Regions from separate parts of the Homo sapiens genome. Here regions 2 and 3 are each linked to region 1. The links come from fine-mapping of genetic effects on gene expression. A gene starts in region 1. Each other region holds a variant in brackets. All regions are shown on one strand. Distances are between the middles of the regions. Region 1 holds the start of LPAR5 (lysophosphatidic acid receptor 5). Region 2 holds the start of ING4 (inhibitor of growth family member 4). Region 3 holds the start of IFFO1 (intermediate filament family orphan 1).

Region 1 (9,678 bases):
TCTCTACAAGAAATGACTGAGTGACACGTGCACCACTGCCCAACCCTGTGATCCAGGACTTCCCGGCCTTAGCCTGACGGGCTTCCCAGCTCTTCCAGTGCCTTCCCTGCTCAATTAAATCAACTTGGCTCCCCGTTCCCCTGAGTTACCTCCCCTGTGGAATGACCTGTTGTTTTAGATCCAGGCCTCTCCTCCTGTAGTTAGCAGGGAAAACCAAGGCAAGGAAAAGTAAGGGCAGCTGAAGCAAGGGCTGGTAGCTGAGCTGGGGGGCCCATGTCCAGCTCTTGTCCCTGGGCCCCTTGATCTGGAATGGGGAGGCGAGGTCCAAAGAAGGCAGTGACTCACTTCCCCCTTCCCTTATCTACCATTACCAGAAAAATCCTTGACATCAGGCCACTAATCGGGTCCCTGTCCCATGTTCTGGACCCTTATCTACCCCGTCCTGCCCCATTCCCGCTTCCTCAGCCACTTTCCCAGTAAGCTGACTGGCAGCCTCATACTCTCCCAGGCTCCTGGCTTCTTCCCAGCAACCTGTGACAGAGCGGCAGGGGAAAGGCAGAGGGAAAGCGGAGTGAGGGGCCGCCTGTGTGTGGAAGACCTGGGTCTTGGGCCACACCCTGCCCCTGGCTCTGCCCTAGCAGATATTCCCTGGAGTGCTGCTGCCTGGTGAGGCTTCTGATACCCTCTTCCCTCTCTCTGGCTCTTGGCTTAGATTTGTGACACAGACTATATCCAGTACCCAAACTACTGTTCCTTCAAAAGCCAGCAGTGTCTGATGAGAAACCGCAATCGGAAGGTGAGCACCCCTGCCCTGCCCCTCCTTCTCCCAGCACCCCCTCAATCAGTCACCATAACTGGTCTATTCTGAGGCCCCCTCTGCGAGCAGCTAGGATGTGGAAAGCGGTTCCTGCTTGCATCTCTGGGGCAGAGGCCTCCACCAGCAGGCTCTCCTCCATTCCTCCAGTCCTGGCGGAAGCAAGGCCCTCCTAGGCAGCTGGTGGATAACAGAGGAGGGTCCTAAGAGCACCACAGGAAGAACCCTTGGCTGGGCCAGGACTTGGACGTTGAGGTCTCGGTCTGTCTCCTCTTCTTACTCACCAAGTAGCCTGGGATGAGGCACTTCCCCCTCTGAGCCTCAGCCGCCTGTTTCTGCATGAAAGGGGTTGGGCTGCTTGATGTCTCCTCTGGCTTTAAAAACCCACATTTGAGTTTCCTCCTTCCCTCTACTGCCCTGTGCCCATGCCTGCCCACCTCTCGTTCTTTTGGGCTTCTGACACCTCCCCTCCTCCCCACTCCTGGCACCTGGCTCTGTGATACAGACCGTCTGCACTGAATCTCTGTGTAGGTGTCCCGCATGAGATGTCTGCAGAATGAGACTTACAGTGCGCTGAGCCCTGGCAAAAGTGAGGACGTTGTGCTTCGATGGAGCCAGGAGTTCAGCACCTTGACTCTAGGCCAGTTCGGATGAGCTGGCGTCTATTCTGCCCACACCCCAGCCCAACCTGCCCACGTTCTCTATTGTTTTGAGACCCCATTGCTTTCAGGCTGCCCCTTCTGGGTCTGTTACTCGGCCCCTACTCACATTTCCTTGGGTTGGAGCAACAGTCCCAGAGAGGGCCACGGTGGGAGCTGCGCCCTCCTTAAAAGATGACTTTACATAAAATGTTGATCTTCAGCCTGTGTGGCCTGTTCTGGTTATGATCCCCATCCTCAGCACTGCTACCCTGCCCCGTGGCAGTCAGTCCCCAACCCCTGGTTTTATGGATCCACCTGCCGGTGAGAGAATCTCATGGGAATGGTGCTCAGGGAAGCAGCCATCTGCCAGGAGAAGCAGAAGACCTGAGAACCCAGGGAGGTGAACTGAGGAAGGCCAAGAAGGCTGGGGCCCTAGGGATGATGTGGGCATGTGGGCACCTGTCTTCATTTCTGAAGCCCTAAGCCCCGTGATGTCAGATGCGAGTGTAGTATTGTTCCTCTGTAGGATAAAGGCCAAAGCCTGATGAGATCTTTTCCAAAGGGACCAATCCTGGGGTATAGGGAGTGTGCACCTTGCACTTAATCAGGAAGGGAAAAACCAGGAACTATAGCCTAGATCAGGAAACCTTGGGGTTGTTTTTGTTGTTGTTGTTTTGTGTTTGAGACAGGGTCTCGCTCTGTCACCCAGGCTGGAGTGCAGTGGCATGATCACCACCCACTGCAGTCTTGACCTCCTGGGCTCCAGCCACACTCCTACCTCAGCCTCTCAGGTCCCTGTGACCACAGGAATGTGCCACTAAGCCTGGCTAATTTTTATATTTTTTTGTAGAGATGGGGTCCCTCCATGTTGCCCAGGTTGGTCTCGAACTCCTGGGCTCAAGCAATTTTCCCACCTCGGCCTCCCAAAGTGCTGGGATTACAGGAAGGAAACCCTTGGTGTACAGGAATTTGCCAGATGATCTGGATGTTTAAGTGGTTGCATCTTAACAACCTACATTGAGGTATGACTCCAGCATTGGCCTTTATTATTATTATTATTATTAGTGAGACGGAGTCTTGTTCTGTTGCCTGGGCTAGAGTGCAGTGGCACTATCTTGGCTCACTGCAACCTCCGCCTCCTGGGTTCACGTGATTCTCTTGCCTCAGCCTCCTAAGTAGCTGGGATTACAGGCGCACACCACCATGCCCGGCTAATTTTTTGTGTATTTTTAGTAGAGAAGGGGTTTCACTATGTTGGCCAGACTGGTCTTGAACTCCTGACCTCGTGATCTGCCCGCCTCGGCCTCCCAAAGTGTTGGGATTACAGGTGTGATCCACCGTGCCTGGCTCAGCATTGGCCTTTAATAAGTTGACATATCCCAAAGTATGTTCCAGGGACACTGTAGAGTCTCTCTCCCTTCTATAGGTTCGCAGTAATTAACAGCATTTTGTTAAAGCTTGCTTACTATGACAGTTCAAACATGCACAAAAATAGAAAAGTATAATGCACTGTCATGTACCCTTCACCCAGTTTCCATGATCAACACAAGGCCTATCATCTGACAGCATGTTAAGGCCCTCCGGAGCGCGGTAATAGAGAAACCTGTTTAACCTAGTGCTTCCCAAACTCATTTCACCACAATCCCTTTTCCACCTACCACCAAAAAACTTGAACTTGTTTTTATTTATTGAGCATGGACAACATGCCCAGCCCTGTGCCCACAGGGCCACTTGTCTCTGTGTTGTCTGGCCCGAGGACACAAGACAACGGGCTGAGGAGAAACAGACCTAAGCAAAGAGGAACCATCCAGCCTAGTGACTGCTCGATGCGGGAGCCAAGTGTGCTCAGTGGGAGGCAGGACCTAGCAGAGCACTGTCATGAAGAGGGCCCCGGGCAGGGTGGGGCACAAGCCACGAGTGGCATGGACTAAGCCACGAGTAGCATGGACTAAACCACCTGGCAGACCTAGGAAAGGAAGACAGACACCCAGGGGGAACCGGTGAGGACAGCGAGAGGCTGGTGGGTTAGTCATCTGGCATCAGACGGTGGGTGTGCCAGGAAGAGTTCCCAGACACAGCAGGAATATCTGAACGATGGGTGGGGGCAGTTCCTAGTCGGGGCTGGATTAAGTATCCTTAGCTGCTGGGGTTTCTTCTCTGGCCAGTCCGTGAAGGCCTCTGAGGGCAATGCTTCCTCTTCACTCTCTCCTTGGCCCGTGTGGGGTTGGGTGAGTGCACTGAGCTGGGAGGGATGGGCTGAGATCTGCTGAGGTGGGTGTGTCCCCTCCCGCCCTGGGAGCAGGTCCTACCAGCCCAGCCCAGCCCAGCCCAGCCCAGAGCAGGCAGCGGAAGCCAGCTTGGGGCAGCGCAGAGCAACACGGAGCACAGGTATGGGGGTGTCACGAATTGAACTGCACAGGGAGCACAAGGGGAGCACCCCCCTGTAGAAATGGGAGATTTGGGTGGGGGACAGAGAAGAGGGTGGGCATGGGCCCTGGAAAACCCTTCTGAACAGAGTAAAAAGCCGAAAGGAGCTGCCTCAAATAGACAGATCTTTTCAGATGGCGCTGGACAAACAGCTAACATGCCTGCTACACCTCGGGAGTGCTCCTCTTTGATGCTTGAAGCCCCCACTCTGGGGCATCTCGCAGAGGCTGTGTCCTCCCCCTCCCCCTCTAGGCCCCCACTGTGGAACTGAGCCTTGGGCCTCCCAGGGAGGGCCCTCTGGGGACTGTTTACACACTTTTTCCACTCGCAGTTAAACCTCAACCCCTACACCACACATCCCCCAGGGCCAGGCAGATGACAATGAGCTGATCTAATCAAACTTGCTAATGGGTTGACTGGCAGAGATGTGTTCTCAGTGTTATCCTTCCCAACTAGCCAAGGTGTACTGTAATGGGGTCTTCAGGAAGTGCTGCCTTAACCCAAAAGGTGCATCTATATAAGGGGATTAGACTGATGGTCTTTGATGTCCCTATGGCTCTGATAGATGGTGGCTTCAGGGGATGGAATTTTGGAGGTGGGGGACATATTCGGAGGTCAGCAGGGCTTTATGATACCTTCACATCACACCATGAGGATGGGGCCTACCTCTTCCCTGTGGTTGTGGGGCCCCCATGACAAGAAGGGGACCTCCACCAGATTGTATCTCCAGAACTACTCCTTTTTTTCTCTCTTCCTTCCTTCCTTTCTTTTTTTTTTTTTTGAGACAGAGTCTCCCTTTGTCACCCAGGCTGGAGTGCAGTGGCACGCTCTCAGCTCACTGCAACCTCCGCCTCCTGGGTTCAAGCAATTCTCTGCCTCAGCCTCCTGAGTAGCTGGGATTATAGGTACGCACCACCATGCCCGGCTAATTTTTGCATTTTTAGTAGAGACAGGGTTTTACCATCTTGGCCAGGCTGGTCTTGAACTCCTGACCTCATGATCCACCTGCCTCGGCCTCCCAAAGTGCTGGGATTACAGGCATAAGCCACGGTGCCCAGCCATTTTTTTTTTCAAGACAGGATCTCACTCTGTTGCCCAGGCTGGAGTGCAGTGGCATGAACATGGCTCACTGCAGCCTCAAACTCCTGGGTTCAAGCAATCCTCCCACTTCAGCCTCCCGAGTACCTGGGACTACAGGCAGGCACCACCATGCCCGGCTAATTTTTTTTTTTTTTGAGATGGGGTCTCGCTCTGTCGTCTAGGCTAAAGTGCAGTGGCATGATCTAGACTCACTGCAAACTCCGCCTCCTGGGTTCAAGCTATTATCCTGCCTCAGCCTCCAGAATAGCTGGAAATATAGGCTTGAGCCACCACAACCAGCTACTTTTTGTATTTTTTTTGGGTGTGTGTGTGTTTGTGTAGAGACAGGGTTTCACCATGTTGCCCAGGCTGGTCTTGAACTCGCGCTAAAGTGATCCATTCGCCTCTGCCTCCCAAAGTGCTGGGATTACAGGCGCGAGTCACACACTCGGCCTCTGTTAGTTTTTTGAAATTTTTTTGTAGAGCGGAGCGTGGTGGCTCACACCTGTAATCCCAGCACTTTGGGAGGCCAAGGCGGGCAGATCACAAGGTCAAGAGATCGAGACCATCCCAGGCAACATGGTGAAACCCCCGTCTCTACTGAAAAGACAAAAATTAGTTGGGCACGGTGGCACGCACCTATAGTCCCAGCTGCTCGGGAGGCTGAGGCAGGAGAATCCCTTGAACCCGGGAGGCGGAGGTTGCAGTGAGCTGAGATCACACCACTGCACTCAAGCCTGGCAACAGAGCGAGACTCTATCTCAAAAAAAAAATATTTTTTGTAGAGATGGGGTCCCACTATGCTGCCCAGGCTGGCAGAAATCCTCCTTTTAGGGTGAGCTAAAGTTGTAGACCCAGTGGGACATGGAGGCAGGGATTGAGGTGAGACAGAAACTTACTCACATGCAGTATGTACAGGACTCACCACCCAGCCACTCAGAGGCACTAGAGCCCAACTCCATCTGTCTGATGCCATCTGCTCTCCCTACTCTGCTGCCCCCAGTGCATACCCCAGGACATACCTACTGACAGAGATCTTTTATGCCCAGGGGCATTTTAAAAAGCCCAGGAGAATGGCCGGGCACAGTGGCTCACGCCTGTAATCCCAGCACTTTGGGAGGCTGAGGAGGGCAGATCACCTGAGGTCAGGCATTCAAGACCAGCCTGGCCAACACAGTGAAAACCCATCTCTACTAAAAATACAAAAATTAGCCAGGCGTGGTGGCGGGCGCCTGTAGTCTCAGCTACTCGGGAGACTGAGGCAGGAGAATTGCGTGAACCCGGGAGGCGGAGGTTGCAGTGAGCTGAGATTGCACCACTGTACTCCAGCCTAGGTAACACAGCAAGCGAGACTCCATCTCAGAAAAAAAAAAAACAAAACCCAGGAGAAGGAACCGGCAAGAGCAGTGAGGGCTGAAGCCAGTGCACTCTAAAGTCAGGTGAGGTCAGCAAAGCCCACAGGCTCTGGTGGATTTCCCTGAGGAAGCAGGACCTGCCAGGCTACAAGCAAGGGTCAGATGCACACAGACCACCTCAGGACACAGGTCAGGGGGCTGGGCCTGCCTCCGTGGCTTCTCTTGGGACTGACTTTCTTGCTTTTCCAGCTCTCGAAAGCAGGGTAAAGGGAGAGGCACAATGGCAAGGTGATATCCGCACATCAGGGAAACTAGTTATTGAGCTGTAGACCACCTTTGCTTTCTGCCTTTTCCCAGACAAATGTCAGGAGGGATGAGGTCAGAGTACTCAGGGAGGGAGAAGCCAGGGCCGAGGATGATGCTGGAAATGCAGGAAAAGACAGGCTTCAGCAGAGAAGGGTGGGGAAAGGCAGGAGCAGGAATTCTGGCTGGAGAAGCAGGCAGGCCTGGGCCAGGGAGGAGGGAAGACACGACCTGACACCCGGGATCCGTGCCAGAGACTCCTCTCTGAGGAAGAATGTGGCCCCTGGGCAGAAGGAGGCCTCCCCGCCCACCCTGGGGACTTTGTACTGTCTCCAAACCTTGAGGATGAGGATTCATCCTCCTGTTCCATTTAGTCTTCCATCTCATCCCTGCCCCTCAGGACCAGGATAAGCGGAAGAAAAGGATTCATTTGTGCCCTCAAAACAGCTCTGGGACAGAGCTTTTCACAAAGGCTTTGGACTGAGCTAAGCTTCTGCTGGAGGCTCAGCACAGCTGGGGTCTGTTTGGAGGGCCTGGATACAGAGATACTGAGTCTTCATGATGAAGCCTGTCTGTGGGGAAAGGGTGCATCCTCCCAGCGCTGCCTGAACACAGAAGCAGAGGAAGTAGGCTTCGCTAATTCAGCGAGTGGGTTAGAGTACATACTAAAGAGGGACTTCCTGTGTCGGGGCTGAGACACTGATGGGCCACGAGACTCTAAAATGAGGGTGGGGCTATTCCAGAGCTGATTCTCAGGGGCAAGGAGGATGGGGAGATGTAAGAACCTTCTTTTCAGACCTCTGACCCTAGGAATTGGAGTCAGGGGACCCAGGATGTGAATTATTTGAAAGAGGAGGCAGGCCGGGTCCAGTGGCTCACGCCTGTAATTCCAGCACTTTGGGTGGCCGAGGCAGGCAGATCACAAGGTCAGGAGTTCAAGACCAGTCTGGCCAATATAGTGAAACCCCGTCTCTACGAAAAATACAAAAAATTAGCCGGGTGTGGTGGTGTGCGCCTGTAATCCCAGCTACTCAGGGGGCTGAGGCAGGAGAATCGCGTGAATCCGGGAGGCAGAGGTTGCAGTGAGCTGAGATTGCACCGTTGCACTCCAGCTCAGGCGACAGTGCGAGACTCCGTCTCAAAAACAAAAGAAAAAAAAACGGAAAGAAAGAAAGGAGGCAAAAGACAGAGCAAGGCATGTGGTGTTTGCGGGGAGGTGGGCAACACAGGAAGGGTATGGGGGAGGAACTGGGCAAAGAGGAGGCATTCCCCTGCCCCTGCCCTTCTCATTGTTCCCAGCCCCCTGGTCCTTTCTCTTCAGCTCCCCTCAACGTCATTTGCCCAAGAGGCTGGATACCAGGGCAGGGTGTGTGGAGGAGAGTGAGGGAATGATCATGATTGCACCTCCTGCTCACTTTTACACTCTTGTTCTCACTTCCTGCCTCTGGCATAAAATAGCCCTGCCCCTCTGGCTTATCTCAGCAAAGAGCAGTGCCCAGCCCAGCTCAGAGGGCAAATGGGACAGATCCCAGAGGCCCTGAGGAGGTAAGTAACCTGGCCCCCGGATGTGTACATGGGAAGCTGAAGGACGGAGACCCAGGGAGAAGGAAGGTGGCTGCACACATTCTGGTGTGTGAGCGGTGTTGGGGTGGGTGATATAGAAGGAGCAGTCCCGGACCCTCTGTGTGTGTCGTGGTCACTTTGCTCCTCAGTGCCTTGGGGTTGAGATCTCCCATGCTTGTGAAGCTGCCTGGTTCTGTCTGTGTAAGGATACTGTCCCTAAGGCAGGGCCTTCTTTCTCTTCCTCCCCAGCCCAGTTGTCTATGCACATACGTGTTTATTACAGGATGTGTATAGACACTGAGTTCTATGTTACTAGGGGTCTTGTGTGCACATCTCTTAGCGTGTGTGTATATGTGTCTGTGCACACACGTGTAATGAGTGGTATACTTACCTGACATCAGTGTGTGCCGACGTTCTTCAGCCTATGGGGGCCTCCATGTCCCTCCTTCCTGGTGTTCCTTCTTTTCTGGGGCAGCTGCCATTTCTTTGATTCCTGCATCTCTCCTACAGCCTGACCTCTTCTTCAAGGCAGGATTGGGGGAGAGGGTCTGGGCTGCCCCTCCCCAACACCTAGATTCCCTCCTTCCACATCCTGTTAGCCTCCTTTTTGGCAGTTTTTTCCATCTTCGCCATCTGGCCTGGCACTGTGCCCATTCAGCTCCTGAAGGGAGCCCCAGGGCTCGGGAAGCAGAAGTGTGGGATGGGGACCAGGCCAGGGGCCTGGCAGCTCTCAGTGCTCAGCTTGGGCCGTTCTGTGTGACTGTCAGAAAGAGGCGGCTTTTTGACCACCAGGATCCTTTATAAAGATGGGCTGGGGCCAGGTGCGGTGGCTCATGCCTATAATCTCAGCACTTTGGGAGGCCGAGCCGGGTGGATCAACTCAGGTCAGGAGTTCAATACCAGCCTGACCAATATGGTGAAACCTGTCTCTACTAAAAATACAAAAATTAGCCAGGCATGGTGGCGTGCACCTGTAGTCCCAGCTACTCAGGAGGCTGAGACAAGAGAATTGCTTGAACCTGGGAGGAAAAGGTTGCAGTGAGCTGAGACTGTACCACTGCACTCCAGCCTGGGCAACGGGGAGACTCCGTCTCAAAAAAAAAAAAAAAAAAAAAAAAAAAAAAAAAAAAAAAGATGGGCTGGGTGCAGTGGTTCACTCTTGTAATTCCAGCACCCAGCACTTTGGGAAGCCGAGGTCTGCAGATCACTTGAGGTCAGGAGACCAGCCTAGCCTGACCAACATGGTGAAACCCCATTTCTACTGAAAACACAAAAAATTAGGCAGGTGTGGTGGTGCGAGCTATGATCCCAGCTACTTGGGTGGCTGAGGCACGAGAATTGCTTGAACCCAGGAGGCGGAGGTTGCAGTGAGCCAAGATTGTGATACTGCACTCCAGCCTCCAAACGAAGTGAGACTGTATCCAAAAAAAAAAGAAACCCAAGAACTTCTCCCCTTTGGAATAGAGTAACAAGAGAGCATCGCCATTTCCTTTGC
Region 2 (9,678 bases), 31 kb before region 1:
TTTCCCTTTTTTCTCTTATCCTGTGCAGAATCCACACTGGTGATAGACCATACAAATGTGCACACCCAGGCTGTGAGAAAGCCTTCACACAACTCTCCAATCTGCAGGTAAATGTTCCACCCTCCACACAAGACCTTGAGTCTGAGACATGGGGCCATTTGAATAGTATCGTGGTTCTCAAATGTTTTCAGGACTCCTTTACACTCAAACATTATTGAGGGACCCAAAGAGTTTTTGTTTATGTGGGTAATAGCTGTCTACATAGACGTTGTAAAACTGAAAAACCTGAAAAATATTTATAATAGTAATCTGTTTAGAAAGAACAAAAATAAACCCATTGTGTGTTAACATAAATAACATATTCCAAGACCCTCCAAAAACAACTGAGTGAGAAGAATGGCATTATTATACATTTTTGCAGGTGTCTATTTTTTATTTTTGGGACAGGACCTTGCTCTGTCACCCAGGCTGAGTGCAGTGGTGTTATCATGGCCCACTGCAGCCTCAGCCTCCCGGTCTCAAGTGATCCTTCCACCTCAGCCTCCCAAGTAGCTGGGATTCTAGGCATGCACCATCACACCTGGCTGTTTTTTTCATTTTCGTAGAGATGGGGTCTTGCTATCTTCCCTAGGCTGGTCTCGAACTCCTGGACACAGGCCATCCTCCCGCCTCAGCCTCCCCAAAGTGCTAGGATTGCAAGCATGAGTCACCGCACCTGGCACAGGGGTCTTTAATGTCTTAAGCTAGAAGATGAGTAGATTCTCAGATCTGCTGCATCTGGCCTATTGTGTTATCACACATCATGTAACCTCTGTAAGGGTTACATGTAAAACATAAGGCACAATGAAGCCACTTGAAATTTTGAGGGGAACAAGATTTCAGTTAGGTTTTTCATCTTTGTGTTTGTGTGTGTGTGTGTGTGTGCGCGCGCGCGTGTGCGTGTTTGAGACAGAGGCTCGCTGGGTCACCTAGGCTGGAGTGCAGTGGTGTGATTTCAGCTTACTGCAACTTCCCAGGTTCAAGAGAGACAAAGGCAAACATTGTCTTATTATTTTGAAAAGATTTGGCTGGGCGCGGTGGCTCACACCTGTAATCTCAGCACTTTGGGCGGCGGAGGCGGGCGGATCACCTGAGCTCAGGAGTTGGAAACCAGCCTGGCCAACACGGTGAAACCTTGTCTCTACTAAAAATACAAAAAAAATTAGCCAGGCCTGGTGGCATGTGCCTGTAGTCCCAGCTACTTGCAGGCTGAGGCAGGAGAATCGCTTGAACCCGGGAAGCGGAGGTTGCAATGAGCCGAGATTGTGCCGCTGCACTCCAACCTGAGCGACAGAGTGAGAGACTTCATCTGGGAAAAAAAAAAAAAAAGAGTTTTGACCCTGTGGGCCCCCTGTGAAGGTCTTAGTGTTCCCTAAAGATCCCCATGCCTCATTTTAAGAACCACTGGACTGGTGAGACGGGCATAAGCTGTCTTGGGATCCTGGTATGTGCTACATGAGGTATGCTTCCACCCTTAGCCTGTAGCTTCTCAAGTTTCATTTGAAACAATTTCTACTTTCTTCAGATAGAGGGAGAAGCTGGGAGGCCTGACACCTACCTTTTTGCTTTCCATCGAGGTCAAGGGGGCAGGAGGAAAGAGTACAATGTATTCATTCTGGTTTCTCCCAATTTTCTCAGTCCCACAGACGGCAACACAACAAAGATAAACCCTTCAAGTGCCACAACTGTCATCGGGCGTACACGGATGCAGCCTCACTAGAGGTGCACCTGTCTACGCACACAGTGAAGCATGCCAAGGTGTACACCTGCACTATCTGCAGTCGGGCATACACATCAGTGAGTGCTCCGTTTCTTCTCTCCTTCCTCATAGTCCTCTAAGAGTACAGTCCACTTCACCCCATTTTCTGGGTAGAGATCTGTTGCAGTGAATACCCTGCCTCCCTAGCTCCAACTTAGCAGAACAGGTAAATATTCAGAAATTAATTAGACCCATTCTGAGGAATTTAGGGGATGCCTGATCTCCTAATCCTATAGAGACGCATAAGCTGTAATTCTTCATTTTACTTAAACATAAGGCAAAATAAAGCCACTTGAAATTTTGAGGGGAGCTGGATTTCAGTTAGGCATTTTCTTCTTCTTTTTTTTTTTTTTTTCTTTTTGAGACACAGTCTCGCCCTGTCACCCAGGCTGGAGTGCAGTGGTGTGATCTCGGCTCGGCTCACTGTAACCTCCACCTCCTGGGTTCAAGCGATTCTCCTGCCTCAGCCTCCCAAGTAGGTGGGATTACAGGTGCATGTTGCCATGCCCAGCAACTTTTTGTATTTTTAGTAGACATGGGGTTTCACCATGTTGCCCAGGCTGGTCTCAAACTCCTGACCTCAAGTGATCCACCTACCTCAGCCTCCCAAAGTACTGGGATTACAGGTGTGAGCCACCGCACCTGGCCCAGTTAGATATTTTCCATGAGACTCCAGAAAAGGTTGTAAAGTTGTTTCATTCAGGGGTCTTTGAAAAAAATAGCAGCTCATTCCTTTGCCAGTTGAATGTTGAGTGACTTCTAAAGGTTCCTCTCTTTTTTTTCTCAGTAGTGAGCCACTGAAAGTGCTACTTGAGTTTTGCTCAGTCTTGGCTCCAGAAAACCAGTATAAAGCTTACTCTGCTTACAGCAGAATCAGAGCCTGGGGTGCTAGTTACAAGTAATCTCTTTTCCTTCCTCTTTATCCCTCAACTTCTTTTTACCATCTCCCTCAGGAAACATACCTTATGAAACATATGCGCAAACACAACCCGCCTGATCTTCAGCAACAGGTGCAGGCAGCAGCAGCAGCGGCAGCAGTGGCCCAGGCCCAGGCTCAAGCTCAAGCCCAGGCTCAGGCTCAGGCTCAAGCCCAGGCCCAGGCCCAGGCCTCCCAGGCATCACAGCAGCAGCAGCAGCAGCAGCAGCAGCAGCAGCAGCAGCAGCAACAGCCACCACCACACTTCCAGTCTCCTGGGGCAGCCCCCCAGGGTGGGGGTGGTGGGGACAGCAATCCCAACCCTCCACCCCAGTGTTCCTTTGACCTGACCCCGTATAAGACGGCGGAGCATCATAAGGACATCTGCCTCACTGTCACCACCAGCACCATCCAGGTGGAGCACCTGGCCAGCTCTTAGAGATCCGTGCTGCCACCCACTGGGAAGAGGAAGAAGTAGTCCTGGTGTCTTCTTTCTCCAACTCTTGGTGGGAAAAGTCCTTTTCTTCCTTGACAGGCCTTGGCTCCATCTCCTTGGGCCTCTGTCACGGCTTTCCTTCACAGGATACCATCCTTTTTCTGAACTCTTCTTCAAAAGGAACATCAGCCCTCCTGATTGCAAAGGAATACTGAGCTGATGGTGTCATCCAGCAGCCTCCCCTCCCAAGCAAAGCTTCTAAAACTGGGGGTCGGTGCTCAAGGGAAGGATTTGCTATGACCTCATAGAACCTTGTCCAGTGTGGCCACTTACCCTATCCTTACCCTCCTTATCCTCAAAGTTTGGGCTGATGTAAGACTAGAGGCTGGCCCTCCCAGATAACAGAGAAAAGGGAGCCCCAAATGCAACCAGCCTCTTGTTCTATTCTTGCCTGCAAAAGAACAGAGGTTTCTCAAATGCCTCAGTCCCTGAGAGCCATTTCTTCCCCTACATCGTCTCACTTTGCTTCCTATTGACTGCTGGTAGAAGGAGATTTGGGGTAGGGGCTAGACCTCCTTTTATTTGAAGGGGGCAAGGGCTGAGATGTGGTCCCCAAGGGGCCAGAAATTCCCAAGTTGGTCACAGGTGGCTTAGAAGTGTGTGTTATGGTTTTACGGATTTCCTTGAAGCCTCTCTCCTTCTCTGCCTACAAAGACCCTATACTCTCAGTCTCCCCAACCCACCCCCAAGGAGCTGTGGGAGGCTTTGTGTTATCTGTGAAACTCCAAAACAGGGGTGTTGCGGAGAAGGGAGAGTTCAAGGCAAACGCAAGGACTGGACTTAGCTCCCTAGGTGCCACAGTCAGATGCCGGACACGGATTTATATATAAATATATATATATAAATATATTATAC[T/C]CACTCATCACGGCCATCTTTGTTGTAACCATTTCTGTGTTTATAAATGCATTATCTCTGAGAATTTTCATATTTGATGTTTTGTTTATTTTTGTCCTTTTTTTCCCTCTCTCCACCCCTGTCCTCTAGCCACAGCATTTTTCTTTTTGTCTTTTTTTTTTTTTTTTAAATCATGGCAGATTTCAGAGGAAAGGAAATTAAAAAAAAAATCAGGAAACCAGTTGTTATAAAGTAATTTAAAAATGAAGAAAAAAAGAAAAAAACTTATGTACAAACCAAGGGGTGTTTTTAGAACATTGTATAGAAATAAATTCATGTAAAAGGATCAGAGGCAGTGGAGCTACTGATGTGAGCGAGCATGCGGAAAAGGTATTTGGGGAGATGTCCAAGAACAGTACTGAGGATTTATACCAGAGTGTGTGTGTGATGAACAAGTGCTTGTGTGATGATGCCCCATTTGTGCAATTCTCCAGTCATGGAAGGGTACAGTTTCATGATGTCTCCAGTGAAATCCTGGTTTATGAGGACTTCTACATACACATTCTGTCATGGGGATTGCATTGCCTAAATATGTGAGAGCAAGGCTTTGGTTATGTGTTAACAAAACAGCTAAGCTCCCTATGGAAGAAAAATGGAAGCCTCTTGAAAGGACCTACACTCCTGCCTGAGTCTGTGGAAGAGGGGCTTGCAGTTGGCAATGTGTATACATATGTGTATTTGTTACCTTGTGGAAATCATAACCGGTTAAGGGGTGCAAGATTGATTTATGCAGGAGAGCTGTAGTACTATGGAGTAGAATGTGGTCATGAAACCTGGACTTCAGCCCTTTGCCTACCATCAACCAGTGTTGGCCAGGGTGCTTCTTCAACTGTTAGTGAAGGGATTGGACTAGATAACTCTGAAGATACCTTTTTTGAGAATTAAGTAACTTGCTTTAAGGCTGGGTGCGGTGGCTCACGCCTGTAATCCCAGCATTTTGGGAGGGCGAGGCAGGCAGACTACTTGACGTCAGGAGTTCAAGACCAGCCTGGCCAACATGGTGAAACCCCATCTCTACTAAAAATACAAAAATTGATGGCCGTGCACGGTGGCTCACGCCTGTAATCCCAGCACTTTGGGAGGCCGAGACAGGTGAATCATGAGGTTAGGAGCTCGAGACCAGCCTGGCCAGTATGGTGAAACCCCGTCTCTACTGAAAATACAAAAAATAAGCTAGGCATAGTGGTGGGCGCCTGCAATCCCAGCTACTCAGGAGGCTGAGGCAGGAGAATCTTTTGAACCTAGGAGGCAGAGGTTGCAGTGAGCCAAGATCGTGCCATGGCACTCCAGCCTGGGCGACAGAGTGAGACTCTCTCTCAAAAAAGTAAAATAAAAATACAAAAATTAGCCAGGTGTGGTGGCACGCGCCTGTAGTCCCAGCTGCAGGCTGAGGCAGAAGAATGACTTGAACCTGGGAGGCGGAGGTTGCAGTGAGCCGGGATTGCACCACTGCACTCCAGCCTGGGCCACAGAGCGAGATTCTGTCTGGAAAAAAAAAAAAAAACAAAAAAAAAAAAACCTTGCTTTAAGCACCGAAAAAGTTGTGAAAGTTGTGACCAAGCTCCCACATCCTGAGAACTCTGGGACTGCTGGCCAATAGTACTTGTTATGTAGTTGGGCTGGGATAAATAAAGCCCACTTAATTTAGTGCTAGATATCCTGTGTGGGCACCTAAGATGGTGTCTCAATATGTTGTGTAATACCAATGAATGTATCACATATGACCAAATATGCCAATGTTTCTTAGCTCCCTGCATATTTACTGCTTTTTCCTCCCACTCTCACCAACTCTTGAAAAGGCCCTAATGGCCCTAACTTCATCACCAGTATTAGAACTAGAATCTACTCTTTTTATGGATACACTCACACTCACTTATTCCAACAACCCTATGAGGGAGGTAGTAGTCTCATTGTATAGTAAAACAGGCACAGAGATCAAGTTACCGAAAAGCATGACTTTTGTAATTAGAGCAGTTTCCCGGATTCTATTGCTGTATCTTACTACCTGCACACTAGTAAACCTGGGGTTTACAGGCTACAGATCCTTTCAGCTCTGATACCCCCACCACTCTACAGCCCCTGAACCCCCTCCTCCAGCCTGCTCTTACTGTCCAGATAATGTTTCAAATACATCCCTGCATCCATCTCGAAGCAAAACAAAGCAACTTCCAATCCGCCCCGGGTTGGAAGTTCCTCTTCTCCACATATTTGGTAGAAATTATATAGCTGAAAGTCTGTCTCTTTAAAAACTTGCCGTAAGACATTGGTAATTCTTATGAAGGATGTGTGAGGGTACGAAAAGTGTGAGGGGTGGCAGCTATCTCTAAAATACTATCTTACTAACACCACTATTAGGTTATGGCCTTTGTGTTGGCAGTGTGTTGACAGCCTAGTGTGTTGGCAGCCTCTCATACCCTTGACTGCTTCCCATTCTGATGAAAACCATAGAAATCACTCTACCATAGCTGACTAGAGTGATGGCTAGCAACTAACTAGCCAACTAGCCCAGTAGTGATACTGCTGCATCCCTCAATCCCTTCAGAATTATGATGCTAACATCACATATAAACAAAAGGAAAACAAAAACACGAGATTTCCCCCTTAGAGAGTAGCAAGAGGGGCCAGGCACAGTGGTTCGCACCTGTAATCCCAGCACTTTGAGAGGCTGAGGTGGGCAGATCACCTGAGGTCGGAAGTTCGAGACCAGCCTCACCGACATGGAGAAACCCCATCTCTACTAAAAATACAAAATTAGTCTGGCGTGATGGTGCATACCTGTAATCCCAGCTACACGGGAGGCTGAGACAGAAGAATCACTTGAACCCGGGAGGTGGAGGTTGCGGTGAGCCATGATCACGCCATTGCACTCCAGCCTGGGCAATAAGAGTGAAAATTCTGTCTCAAAAAAAAAAAAAAAAAAGCAAGAGGGCAAGGCAGGAAGTAATATTTTATATGTGAAAGTGTATTCTAGTGTAACGTACAGGAGCTCTGACAAAAGATGTGCAGAATTATAGCTTTATTATGAGTCATTCTTTGTATTTATAAGTAGAAAGGTGATCATCTTTCTCAAGTTAAAAAAATAATGCTGGGGGAGATGGTGTTTGTGTGAGTGAATAGAAATTCAGACGGTTTAAATGTCTCAAGGCCTGATACTCTTCCCCAACTTCCTTAAGAAACTAACTGGCTTGAAAAAAGTCATTCTGCAAAAGAGGGAAAAAAAGTTGGATCTTCCAGTTGCTGAGAAGGTATGTTTACGCAATATGAGCCTAAAGTGAACAGTTACCCCTGCACGGATTACCATACATTCCCGTTTTGGAGGGAAAAAAGTTTGCTAGAGAATGCAAAATGGCGACCTCCAGTGACGTCATACCTGTCTCGGTCGCGTCCTGGGGTGTCTGTAAGGGCGGAAGCGGGCTACAGCCGCCTCACTGTGGGCGGTCGTGGCTACCATGCAAAAGGAAAAGTTTCAGTGTCGGGCGGATGTGTACCGGCGGTAATATAGTAAGGGCGGAAGTTCTCCTTTAAGGGCGGAAGTTCTCCTTTTAAGGGCGGAAGTTCTCCTTTTAAGGGCGGAAAGGCTTTAGCCGCAAAATGGCTTCGGCCCCTGTCGCGTTACAGTCACTTCCGGGGCGGATCGGAAGTTGCTTTGTTTTGCTTCGAGATGGCTGCGGGGATGTATTTGGAACATTATCTGGACAGTAAGAGCAGGCTGGAGGTGGGGGTCGGGGCTGCAGAGTGGTGCGGGGATCAGGGATGAGAGGATCTGTAGCCCTTAAGTTCCAGTGACGAGAAGGTCACAATTATGAAGCGGTTCTGTGGCAGGAAATATTGGAGGGTGCGGAGAAAGAGGGGGCGGGGCAGCAGGATCGAGGCCCCGCTGATGGGTGTAGACGAGGGAGGGGTGCGGTGTGGGGGTTAGAGACGTGTCTTGAAGGGCTAGTGTGCATGGCCAGGAAGATAGTTGCTGCCCCCATTCTCCAGGGTCTCCAGCCTCGGTAGATTTTTTTCCCCATAGTCGTTCAGAATCGTTATCACACACTGCCATTTGGAGAAGCGGTAAAGACCTCTCCTCCACTCCATTCTTCCTCAAAAGTGGCTTCTCATGGGGTTGAGAGTGGTGGTGATGAGTGACCACTGTCAGATGATGAACTAGAACGCTTCTCTTCATGGAGTAAAGATCTAATTCCCATCAAATGAAAATCTGGTGTTTATGCGATTTATGTAAACCACCCCTGCAGAAAGCCTATTGCTCTGTGCGCTTACATTTGTTTTAGGGCCCGGAGTCATTTATTCAACAAATATTTATTGAGGTCCTGCTATGGGTCAGACATAATGGCAGGCACTAGGGATAGAAAAATGAGTAAGACAAGGCTCCTGCCCTCAAGAAGCTCACGATCTAGTAGGAAACAGATTCTGCAAATAATTATAAAACACTGTGACAAGTGAGATAATGGAAATACATTAAAAAGGACACTTGGTAGGCAACCCTGGAGAAAAGGGGGGTAATTACCTGGGGATGTAGGAAAAGCTTTACAGCGGAGGTGATGTTTGAATAGGGTCTTGAAGGTTATTTGCCAGTGAGGAGAGAAAAAAGGAATTCCAGGTTGGGGAAAGCATCCGCAAAGGTACTGTGATGGGTTTGTGGCAAGGTCAAGGGTGTTTGATATTTATGACTCAGAGGTCAGCGTATTTGATATTTATGAATCTAAGGTAAGAAATTGAGAAAGGAGACTGGAGAAAGAGGCTGAGGCTAGATTGGACAAGGTCTTTTAAGCCAAACGAAGAAGTTTGCATTTTAAAGTAGAGTATGATTTTTATAGAGGAAAATGACTAATATATGGTAAATTGGAGCATGATATTGTTGATAACAGAGATCAATTAGTGATAACATTCCAGGACAGAGATAAGAACCTGATTTTAGGGAGTTACAGAAGTATTTAGGAGTTAAATATGAAAGGACTGACTGAATGACTGAGTGGTTGAGAGAGAAGGAAGAATCTAAGGTGGCTTCTTCCTGCTTAGAAAGTGAGGTAGACAGGCTGGGCACAGTAGCTCATGCCTGTAATCTCAGCACTTTGGGAGGCCAAGGCGGGCAGATCACTTGAGGTCAGGAGTTTGAGATCACCCTGTCCAACATGGTGAAGCCCAGTCTCTACTTTAAAAAAAAAAAAAAATTAGCTGGGCATGGTGGCATGTGACTGTAATCCCAGCTACTTGGGAGGCTGAGTCAGGAGAATCACTTGAACCCAGCAGGTGAAGATTGCAGTGAGCTAAGATCATACATACCACTGCACTCCAGCCTGGGTGACAGAGAAAGACTCCGTGTCCCTCTCAAAAAAAAAAAAAAAAAAAAAAACAAAGGCTGGTGGCCAGGCACGGTGGCTCATGCCTGTAATCCCAACACTTTGGGAGGCTGAGGCAGGCGGATCATGAGGTCAGGAGATCGAGACCAGCCTGGCTAACATGGTGAAACCCCGTCTCTACTAAAAATAAAAAAAATAGCCAGGTGTGGTGGTGTGCCCCTGTAGTCCCAGCTACTTAGGAGGCTAAGGCAGGAGAATCGCTTGAACCTGG
Region 3 (9,678 bases), 77 kb after region 1:
CTCTTAGAAAATCAGATGCCACTTCTAGGAAATAAAGTAACAGGAGGTGGCATCCTGCTCCATTGGGATGAAGTTCAGATCTTGAGTTAGGAGCCTGAGGTTAAGAAAAAAGGGCACCATAGGATGGAGTGGGAGAGAGAAACTGCTCAATGACTCCATGATGACTGTGTTTGGAGTAAGCACTATAGGAGTTGTGGGGTATGGGCCATGTTTTTATGAAGCATGTGTTTAATGTCTTCATCTGTCTTCTGGGTAGAGTAGCCTATGAGGTTATTAAAATCTTCATCCCTACCGGGCGCGGTGACTCAACGCCTGTAATCCCAGCACTTTGGGAGGCCGAGGCGGGCAGATCACCTGAGGTCAGGAGTTAGAGACCAGCCTGGCCAACATGGTGAAACCCCATCCTATGAAAAATACAAAAATTAGCCAGGCATGGTGGTACATGCCCGTTGTCCCAGCTACTCAGGAGGCTGAGGCACGAGAGAATCGCTTGAATCTGGGAGGTGGAGGTTGCTGTGAGCCGAGATTGCGCCACCTCACTCTAGCCTGGGCAACAGAGTGAGACTCCATCTCAAAAAAAAAAAAAAAAAATCTTCATCCCTTTTCAGGCTCTAATCAATCGTGGGGTTAACCTGGATCCCCTGGGCAAGTGGTCAAAGACTGGACTAGTGGTGTATGATTCTTCTGTGCCCATTGGTAAGTCTCCCCCACCCAAGAGCCCTTCTACCTCTGTCCCTGTCCCTACCGCATGTCACAGGGTGGTCCTTCTCCACAGGTGCTACCCCCGAGTACCTGGCTGGGCACTACATGCTGCAGGGAGCCTCCAGCATGTTGCCCGTCATGGCCTTGGCACCCCAGGAACATGAGCGGATCCTGGACATGTGTTGTGCCCCTGGAGGAAAGACCAGCTACATGGGTATGAGAGGGGCAGGCAGGTGGGATTCATCGGGCTGTCTTGCTTTTGAAAGTAGATGGGGTTGCTGGGGTTGCTGACTCACTAGTGCTCATGGAACACAATGTGCAGGTAGCTAGCAGGGTGGTGAGGACCAGTTTCTGGAGTCGGCCTGGGTTCCAGTGTGCCACTTACTACCCATCTGACTATGGATTCTCTTTTGTCATCCATAAAATGGGATGGTAATTGTGCTTGGGTTGGCCCTTGTATTACGCTTGGATTGTGAGGGTTAAAATGATGCGTTTAGAAGTCCTTGGCAGTGTTCAGCACATAGTCAGCAGCCATAACTTTTATTAAGCTGCTGTCACTTAAAAGAAGTAATTTAGTATGTAGGACCACATAGGTGTTTGGTAAAAATGGGAAAACCACATCGGTAGACTTGCCGATCACCAGGGGCTAGTGCAGAGTGGATCAGCCTATACAGTAGGCAGGCTTGTTGGGAGCGAAGTTGCCTTGAGGTGATGACACTTCTCATGTGGATTCCTGGACAGGAGGGTGGGAGCAAGTGTGGAGACAGTGGAACTGGCTGATCAGCACTGTTACTGCCCTCTCTTTAGCCCAGCTGATGAAGAACACGGGTGTGATCCTTGCCAATGACGCCAATGCTGAGCGGCTCAAGAGTGTTGTGGGCAACTTGCATCGGCTGGGAGTCACCAACACCATTATCAGCCACTATGATGGGCGCCAGTTCCCCAAGGTGAGACTCGAGCTGTGTGTCTTCTGAGGCTTCTTCCGGTTGACCTTCTCCCTTCCTGACCTCAATGTTTAGACTCGACCCTAGTAAATATTGCCCTGCTGGTTGCAGAAGAGACATATGATTCATCTGTATCTTTTCTCCAGGTGGTGGGGGGCTTTGACCGAGTACTGCTGGATGCTCCCTGCAGTGGCACTGGGGTCATCTCCAAGGATCCAGCCGTGAAGACTAACAAGGTGAGGAGTCAGGTGGTGGGCCCCTGAGAGGCCTTGGCTGGGTCTCGTAGAGCTGGAAACTGAGATGGGGACACCCTCTGGGCTCCCCTCTCCTCCTGAGGCTGCCTTTGGGTCTCTTTTTGGGACAGGATGAGAAGGACATCCTGCGCTGTGCTCACCTCCAGAAGGAGTTGCTCCTGAGTGCTATTGACTCTGTCAATGCGACCTCCAAGACAGGAGGCTACCTGGTTTACTGCACCTGTTCTATCACAGTGAGACCTCTGCCATGGCAGAGCAGGGGAGGCTGGGCTGGGGGGCTCTTTGCCCCTTAGAGCTCCCTTCAGCTCCAGCTCTGCTTTTTCCTCCGTTCTTTGTCTTCCCCCCACATCCAGGTAGAAGAGAATGAGTGGGTGGTAGACTATGCTCTGAAAAAGAGGAATGTGCGACTGGTGCCCACGGGCCTAGACTTTGGCCAGGAAGGTTTTACCCGCTTTCGAGAAAGGCGCTTCCACCCCAGTCTGCGTTCTACCCGACGCTTCTACCCTCATACCCACAATATGGATGGGTTCTTCATTGCCAAGTTCAAGAAATTTTCCAATTCTATCCCTCAGTCCCAGACAGGTAAGTAATCTTTTTCTTCCCTTCGTCACCACCTTTGCTCTTTCCACCTTTCAGGAGGCTTTATGGTGTGACAAGAGGAAGGGAAAGGAAAGATTCATGCATCCCTTACTCCAGCCTTTGCATGCTTGGCTGAGAGAACCCTCTCATTCCAGCTAGAATTGCTTTTGAGTGCTGGACCCCATGTGAACAGGCTAAAGTGTTCATATGGATGGAGGCCTGTTCCTTTATTCTGCCAAGTGGCTGCAGTTGTTCAGCACTAAATGCATTCCAAATGCAGGTTGTGGTTTCTTTTCCTTCTTGGCACAGGGTGGACTTACTGGTACTGGACCTCTGCTGGTCCAGCAATCTCAGCACTGGGTTGGAACAGAGCTCCACAGAGCTTTGTCAGCAGTTCTCTGAGCCCTTCACACTCATTGCAGATTGTTTTCTCAGCCATCTTGAGGAGTCTGGCCTGGATCTCAAGGGAAGGGTGGGGTTTTCTGAAACAGCCTTGAGAGCACTGCTTACTGGGATATAACCCTGGGTTTAGTTGGAAGAGGGAGAGAAGTGCTACTTTAGAAATAGTAGAATTTGTCTGGGCGTGGTGGCTCATGCCTGTAATCCCAGCACTCACCTGAGGTCAGGAATTCGACACGGTGAAACCCTGTCTCTACTAAAAATATAAGAATTAGCTGGGTGTGGCCAGGCACGGTGGCTCACGCCTGTAATCCCAGCACTTTGGGAGGCCAAGACGGGTGGATCACGAGGTCAGGAGATCGAGACCATCCTGGCTAACACAGTGAAACCCCCATCTCTACTAAAAATATAAAAAATTAGCTGAGCTTGGTGGTGGGCGCCTGTAGTCCCAGCTACTCGGGAGGCTGAGGCAGGAGAATGGCATGAACCCGGGAGGCGGAGCTTGCAGTGAGCTGAGATTGTGCCACTGCACTCCAGCCTGGGCGACAGAGTGAGACTCCGTCTCCAAAAAAAAAAATTAGCTAGGTGTGGTGGTACGTGCCTGTAGTCCCAACTACTCAGGAGGCTGAGGCAGGAGAATCACTTGAACCTGGGAGGTGGAGGTTGCAGTAAGCCGAGATCACGCTATTGCATTTCAGCCTGGGCAACGAGCAAAACTCCATCTCAAAAAAAAGGAATAGTAAAATTTGCTATAACTTAAAAAGTACATATTTTAATTATCCCGCACTTCATCACAATTCACATGGAAAGAAACTTCTCTGATTTAAAAAATAAATAGGCCAGGTGTGGTGATGGCTCATGCCTATAAATCCCAGTACTTTGGGAGGCTGAGGTGGGAAGATTGCTTAAGACCACGAGTTTGAGACCTGTCTGGGCAACAAAGGGAGACAGTAGTTCCAGCTACTCTGGAGGCTGAGGTAGGAGGATCCCTTGAGCCCCAGGAGTTTGAGGTTGCAGTGAGCTATGATGGCACCACTGTACTCCAGCCTGGGCAACACAGTGAGACTCTACCTCAAAAAAAAAAAAAAAAAGATAAATAAAGCCTAGTGCTTCAAATTCATTTAGAAGACCCTGCGAGGCCGGGCGTGGTGGCTCGCGCCTGTAACCCCAGCACTTTGGGTGGCTGAGGCAGGTGGATCACCTGAGGTCAGGAGTTCAAGACCAGCTGGTCAACATGGTGAAACCTCATCTCTACTAAAAATACAAAAATTAGCCGGACATGGTGGCGCACGGTTGTGATTGTCCGGAGGCTGAGGCAGGAGAATTGCTTGAACCCAGGAGGCAGAGGTTGCAGTGAGCCGAGATCACACCACTGCACTCCAGCCTGGGTGACAGAGTGAGATTCCATCTCAAAAAAAGAAAAAAAAAACCCCAAAACCCTGAGAATCACCTCTTCCTTACAGCATCTTGTTACTTCCTGTCCTCAAGAGGGCGCAGCTTCCTGTAGAAACCTTTTGGCCCAAGGATAGGCAGTGATTTTTTTTTTTTTTTTTTTTTTTTTGAGACGGTGTCTTGCTTTGTCGCTCAGGCTGGACTGCAGTGGTGCAATCTCAGCTCATTGCAACCTCCACCTTCCAGGTTCAAGCGATTCTTGTGCCTCAGACTCCCAAGTAGCTAGGATTACAGGTGTGTACCACCATCCCTGGCTAATTTTTGTATTTTTAGTAGAGATGGTTTCACCATGTGGGCTAGGCTGGTCTTGAACTCCTGGCCTCAAGCAATCCACTTGCCTTGGCCTCCCAAAGTGCTGGAATTACAGGTGTGAGCCACCACGCCTGGCCTATAGGCAGTGATCTTTTAATACAAGGTTCAACTAGGACTTGAGTAAAGGCCAAGTTATATTAAGTAATGGGAATTTAGGTAATCTGCTCTTAGGCACTGACCTAATTGTGTGGAGCTCCTGCCCAGGAAATGGCAATTCTCATATTTTAATATGAGAATATTAAAATATGGTGATAAGGCCCATTTTCTGACACCATCTGTTTAATTTTAACCCCAGGAAATTCTGAAACAGCCACACCTACAAATGTAGACTTGCCTCAGGTCATCCCCAAGTCTGAGAACAGCAGCCAGCCAGCCAAGAAAGCCAAGGGGGCTGCAAAGACAAAGCAGCAGCTGCAGAAACAGCAACATCCCAAGAAGGCCTCCTTCCAGAAGCTGAATGGCATCTCCAAAGGGGCAGACTCAGAATTGTCCACTGTACCTTCTGTCACAAAGACCCAAGCTTCCTCCAGCTTCCAGGATAGCAGTCAGCCAGCTGGAAAAGCCGAAGGGATCAGGGAGCCAAAGGTGACTGGGAAGCTAAAGCAAC[G/A]ATCACCTAAATTACAGTCCTCCAAGAAAGTTGCTTTCCTCAGGCAGAATGCCCCTCCCAAGGGCACAGACACACAAACACCGGCTGTGTTATCCCCATCCAAGACTCAGGCCACCCTGAAACCTAAGGACCATCATCAGCCCCTTGGAAGGGCCAAGGGGGTTGAGAAGCAGCAGTTGCCAGAGCAGCCTTTTGAGAAAGCTGCCTTCCAGAAACAGAATGATACCCCCAAGGGGCCTCAGCCTCCCACTGTGTCTCCCATCCGTTCCAGCCGCCCCCCACCAGCAAAGAGGAAGAAATCTCAGTCCAGGGGCAACAGCCAGCTGCTGCTATCTTAGATGGTTGAAAACTAGACGGGTGGCTCACTGCCATTGTCACCAGGTTGGAACTCTTGCCTCTGTGAGGATGCCTTCTCTACTGTGCATACCCATGAAATTTAATACACATTTTAAAACCTCTGGCCACTGAGTATTTTTGAGGGAACTGGGTGCTGCCTTTGCCGCTTTAAGGGTAAAGATGGGAGGTGGGACTGGGATCTTCTGAGGAGAGGGAATGGTTGGGTGCTACTGAGAAATAAGGTCAGTTTTAGGCTCCTGCATCCTTGGGTTTTCCCAGGAAGGGAAAGCCCTGGAGTCAGAGCTAGGGGTGATTGAACTCCGGGGAGAGGAGGGCAATAGAAGTGTAGGGGAAGGCGGGGCACACTAGCTCATGCCTGTAATCCCAGCACTTTCTGGGAGGCCAAGGCGGGTGGATCACCTGAGGTCAGGTGTTCGAGACCAGCCTGGCTAACATGGCGAAACCTCGTCTCTACTAAAAATACAAAAAATCAGCCGGGTGTGGTGGCGGGTGCCTGTAATCCCAGCTACTCGGGAGACTGAAGCAGGAGAATCGCTTGAACCTGGGAGGCTGAGGTTGCAGTGAGCCAAGATCGCGCCACTGCACTCCAGCCCGGGCGACAGTGAGACTCGGTCTCAAAAAAAAAAAAAGTCGTGTAGGGGAGATGGGCTTGCCACCAGAACCCATGGGGTACTGGAGGTCCTGGGCTTTACGCCACCCCGGCTGGAGTCCAGGCGGTGGCTCCCCTCATCACAGGGCTCGGCCTCAGACCCGGAAAGGTCCAGGGTCCGGCCTCCAATTGGAGCCTGTCATTGGCTTCCCCTCGGCCCGCCCCCTGACCTCTGCCCCGCTGCCGAGCCGCCTGATTGGTCGGCTCTGTCCCGCCGGCGCCGCATTGGCTCTTCTGGCTCGCCTTCCATCCCTGCTCCTGCACCGGTCTGCATCTCCCAGCAGAAGGCGCAGCCATGAATCCGTTATTCGGCCCCAACCTCTTCCTCCTGCAGCAGGAGCAGCAGGGCCTGGCCGGGCCACTGGGGGACTCACTGGGAGGCGACCACTTCGCCGGGGGAGGAGACTTGCCCCCGGCGCCTCTCTCGCCGGCCGGCCCTGCTGCCTACTCGCCGCCCGGGCCGGGCCCGGCCCCGCCTGCCGCCATGGCCCTCCGCAATGACCTGGGCTCCAACATCAACGTGCTCAAGACCCTGAACCTCCGGTTCCGCTGCTTCCTGGCCAAGGTGCATGAGCTGGAGCGCCGGAACCGGCTGTTGGAGAAGCAACTGCAGCAAGCGCTGGAGGAGGGTAAGCAGGGCCGGCGGGGCCTGGGTCGTCGCGACCAGGCAGTGCAGACCGGCTTCGTCAGCCCCATCCGGCCCCTGGGGCTGCAGCTGGGCGCCCGGCCGGCCGCTGTCTGCAGCCCTTCGGCGCGCGTGCTGGGCTCGCCCGCGCGCTCCCCGGCCGGCCCCCTCGCGCCCTCCGCGGCCAGCCTCTCGTCGTCCTCCACCTCCACCTCCACCACCTATTCCTCGTCGGCCCGCTTCATGCCCGGCACCATCTGGTCGTTCTCGCACGCCCGCCGGCTCGGGCCGGGACTGGAGCCCACTCTGGTGCAAGGGCCTGGCTTGTCGTGGGTGCACCCGGATGGGGTGGGCGTCCAGATCGACACCATCACGCCCGAGATCCGCGCTCTCTACAACGTGCTGGCCAAAGTGAAGCGGGAGCGGGACGAGTACAAGCGGAGGTAGGGATTGGGAAAGGGGGACAGGTCTCTCTGTGTCATACCACTCACAACGGGCCGCGAGTTGGTGTGGGTTCCGAAGAATCAGGGGTGAAAAGAATGAGAGTAAAGTTTGTGCTGTGTAATGAGGAGCTTGGAAGCAATTGGATGCAGGGAGACTAGAATCCGCAGAGAATGCAGAAGCCCTGCTCGTGACAGGAAGAAGGACGCTGGGAGCGGAACACGGGGGGATTCCTACTTTTCCGGCTTGTCTCTGCCATCCAGGCTTAACTGCGGGTTTTGTGCGGTGTGAAAGGGACTGGGGCTCTGCCCTACCGGTCTCAGCCCTGGGGCAGGTTAGGGATATAAACTTCAAAAGTAGGAGGCAAGGATATAGCGTAAATTTGGGAGACTAAATTGAGTGAAACTGGAAGGGGCTGGTGAGGGAGGGGCTGTACCTTGCAACGAGTGATTCTTTCACACCCCAAGGTTTCCCAAAGAATATTGATGGAAACCAGGTACCTGCTGTGGTTTCATAGGAAAAGCTCCGGGACCTCAAGCCATTGCTTGAGTAGGTCAACAAACTGGGAAAAGAAAGAGTGAAGGGAATTCACTAGGGTGAGGGTGGAGAGCAGGGCTGACAGGGGAATCTTGGCAGTATAAAGCGCCAGTGGGGAGGGAGAGTGGAGAGCCAGCAGGGGACTGAGCAGGGAGAAGCTGGGATATGGGCCCTCCCTAGGACCGCGAGGCCGCGGGGCGGGCCCGGTGCATTCTGTGGATGAAGATTTGGCTGTCTGAGAGGAGCCCGGCCCCAAGGGGCAAGGGAAAGGGATGTGATGCCAGGAGTGCTGGCTGTATACCAAGTGGATTCCTTAGATGGCTGATAACCAAGCCGATAGGACAGGAGTGAGAGCAGAGGTAGTGTCTTGCAGACTCCAACCCAAGCCTTGAGGAGGGAGCGGGTGACTGACAGGCTTTGGTTTGGCGGCCTCCCCTCTCATCTCAGCTATTATGACCCCTTGTGGGCGGGCCTGGGAACTACCTATGCAGCCCAGTGTGGCGGAGATTCAGCACTGGGTGAGGATTGGCCGAATGTTCTAGGAAATGACCGCTGGGTCTAGGGGCGACCTTCAGGGATCTCCACCCTGCTGGAGTTTACCAGATCACAGATCAGCAGGCTTTCTTTTTTTTTTTTTCCCATAAATGATAATATTTTATTATAGAAAAAGCATCCCAAATACAGGATTTCGTAAACACTGGTAGGTGAACAAGTGCAATTTTAGAAGTAAATGCAAAGTAAAGAGGCAAAACCTACAAGCATTTTGCCTTCAGAAGAAGATGTAGTGTTCTCCTGCACTAGTGATCCCACCCAGAACACAAATGTGGCTCTGTCTCCCGTGAAAGCATCAGATTTGCTTTCTGAGCTCAGTATGCCCATTTCAATAATTGCAAAGTGATGGCAAGAAGTGGCGTTGAACACATGACTACAGACCCTTGACTTAAAATATTGAGACAGGGACTTGCTCTGTCATCCGGGCTGGAGTGCAGTAGCGTCATCACAGCTCACTGCAGCCTCATCCTCCTGGGCTCAAGCAATCATCCTGCCTCAGCCTCTTGAGTAGCTGGGACTACAGGTGTGCACTACCATGTCCATGCCTGGCTATTTTTTTTTTTTCTTTTTGCGTTGTCCAGGCCAGTCTCAAACTCCTGACCTGATCAGCAGGCTTTCTGAGCTTGAGTCCTGTCCTCGTGCTGGCTTCCTTAGTTGTGGTCCATGTTATGTGTCCTTGGGAGTTTCAGTTGTCCTGAAATCATCGTTCTGCCACCCAGAACCAGCCTGCTCTGCCCCTGCAGGAGTTAACTACGCGCTCAGCAGTGGCACAGGCACAGTTCTGGAATACATCCATAACCACAGGAACAACTGCTGTTCTCAGGAGCATTTTTTTTTTAAACTGAAGGAGCGTTTGTCCTTGGTCCAGCTGTCCAGGACAGGAAGGAGTTATTCCTTGGGGACTGATTAGCTCATCGCTCTGCAGCACGCTGCTGTGTAGAGAGCCTTAGCTGGATTCGGATGGTGCGTGATACTGGCAGTGACTCTTCTTCCTCCCTAGATTCCCTGCCCTCATTCTGGTCTCTTTATAGCAACACTGTAACTCCTGTCTTCTGCCTGGAAGGCCTGGGATGGCTTGAGCGCTACACTGGGAGGTAGCTAAAGGCCTCCTGCGTTCTATTTTCAGCTCCCCTGCCTTGTGCGTGACCTTTTTTTGAGCCCCCATTTTCCCAACATAGGAATGGTCCCTGCTTTCTCTCTTCAACCCAGGGATACAGTTTTTTGGAAGAGAGATATTTGGTCCATGCAGAACACATGGATATCGCTCT

Evidence for each region. PIP is the estimated chance that this variant, and not a neighbour inherited with it, causes the effect.
Region 2: its variant is fine-mapped to the expression of LPAR5 in whole blood (INTERVAL, PIP above 0.99).
Region 3: its variant is fine-mapped to the expression of LPAR5 in whole blood (TOPMed, PIP above 0.99).

The regions. Positions count from the first base shown.
Region 1 is chr12:6,630,072-6,639,749 of GRCh38, reverse strand. It overlaps LPAR5 (lysophosphatidic acid receptor 5), which reads left to right and starts at 3,791. Exons shown (of 2, transcript NM_020400.6): 1 at 3,791-3,843. It overlaps ACRBP (acrosin binding protein), which reads left to right. Exons shown (of 10, transcript NM_032489.3): 9 at 713-796; 10 at 1,346-1,675. The coding sequence ends at 1,468. RefSeq lists enhancers at 854-913, 6,790-6,849, 7,700-7,749 and a silencer at 5,825-5,874.
Region 2 is chr12:6,661,189-6,670,866 of GRCh38, reverse strand. It overlaps ING4 (inhibitor of growth family member 4), which reads left to right and starts at 7,748. Exons shown (of 8, transcript NM_016162.4): 1 at 7,748-7,802. The coding sequence starts at 7,766. ZNF384 (zinc finger protein 384) reads left to right here. Exons shown (of 12, transcript NM_001385745.1): 10 at 29-107; 11 at 1,678-1,836; 12 at 2,752-4,390. The coding sequence ends at 3,153. RefSeq lists an enhancer at 7,718-7,777. The variant T/C (reference allele first, on the strand shown) is at 4,066.
Region 3 is chr12:6,552,902-6,562,579 of GRCh38, reverse strand. It overlaps IFFO1 (intermediate filament family orphan 1), which reads left to right and starts at 6,538. Exons shown (of 10, transcript NM_001193457.2): 1 at 6,538-7,323. The coding sequence starts at 6,551. NOP2 (NOP2 nucleolar protein) reads left to right here. Exons shown (of 16, transcript NM_001258308.2): 10 at 609-696; 11 at 776-916; 12 at 1,510-1,649; 13 at 1,793-1,882; 14 at 2,011-2,133; 15 at 2,254-2,482; 16 at 4,938-5,709. The coding sequence ends at 5,587. RefSeq lists silencers at 6,361-6,520, 6,571-6,810, 6,921-7,100 and enhancers at 7,561-8,061, 8,062-8,562. The variant G/A (reference allele first, on the strand shown) is at 5,250.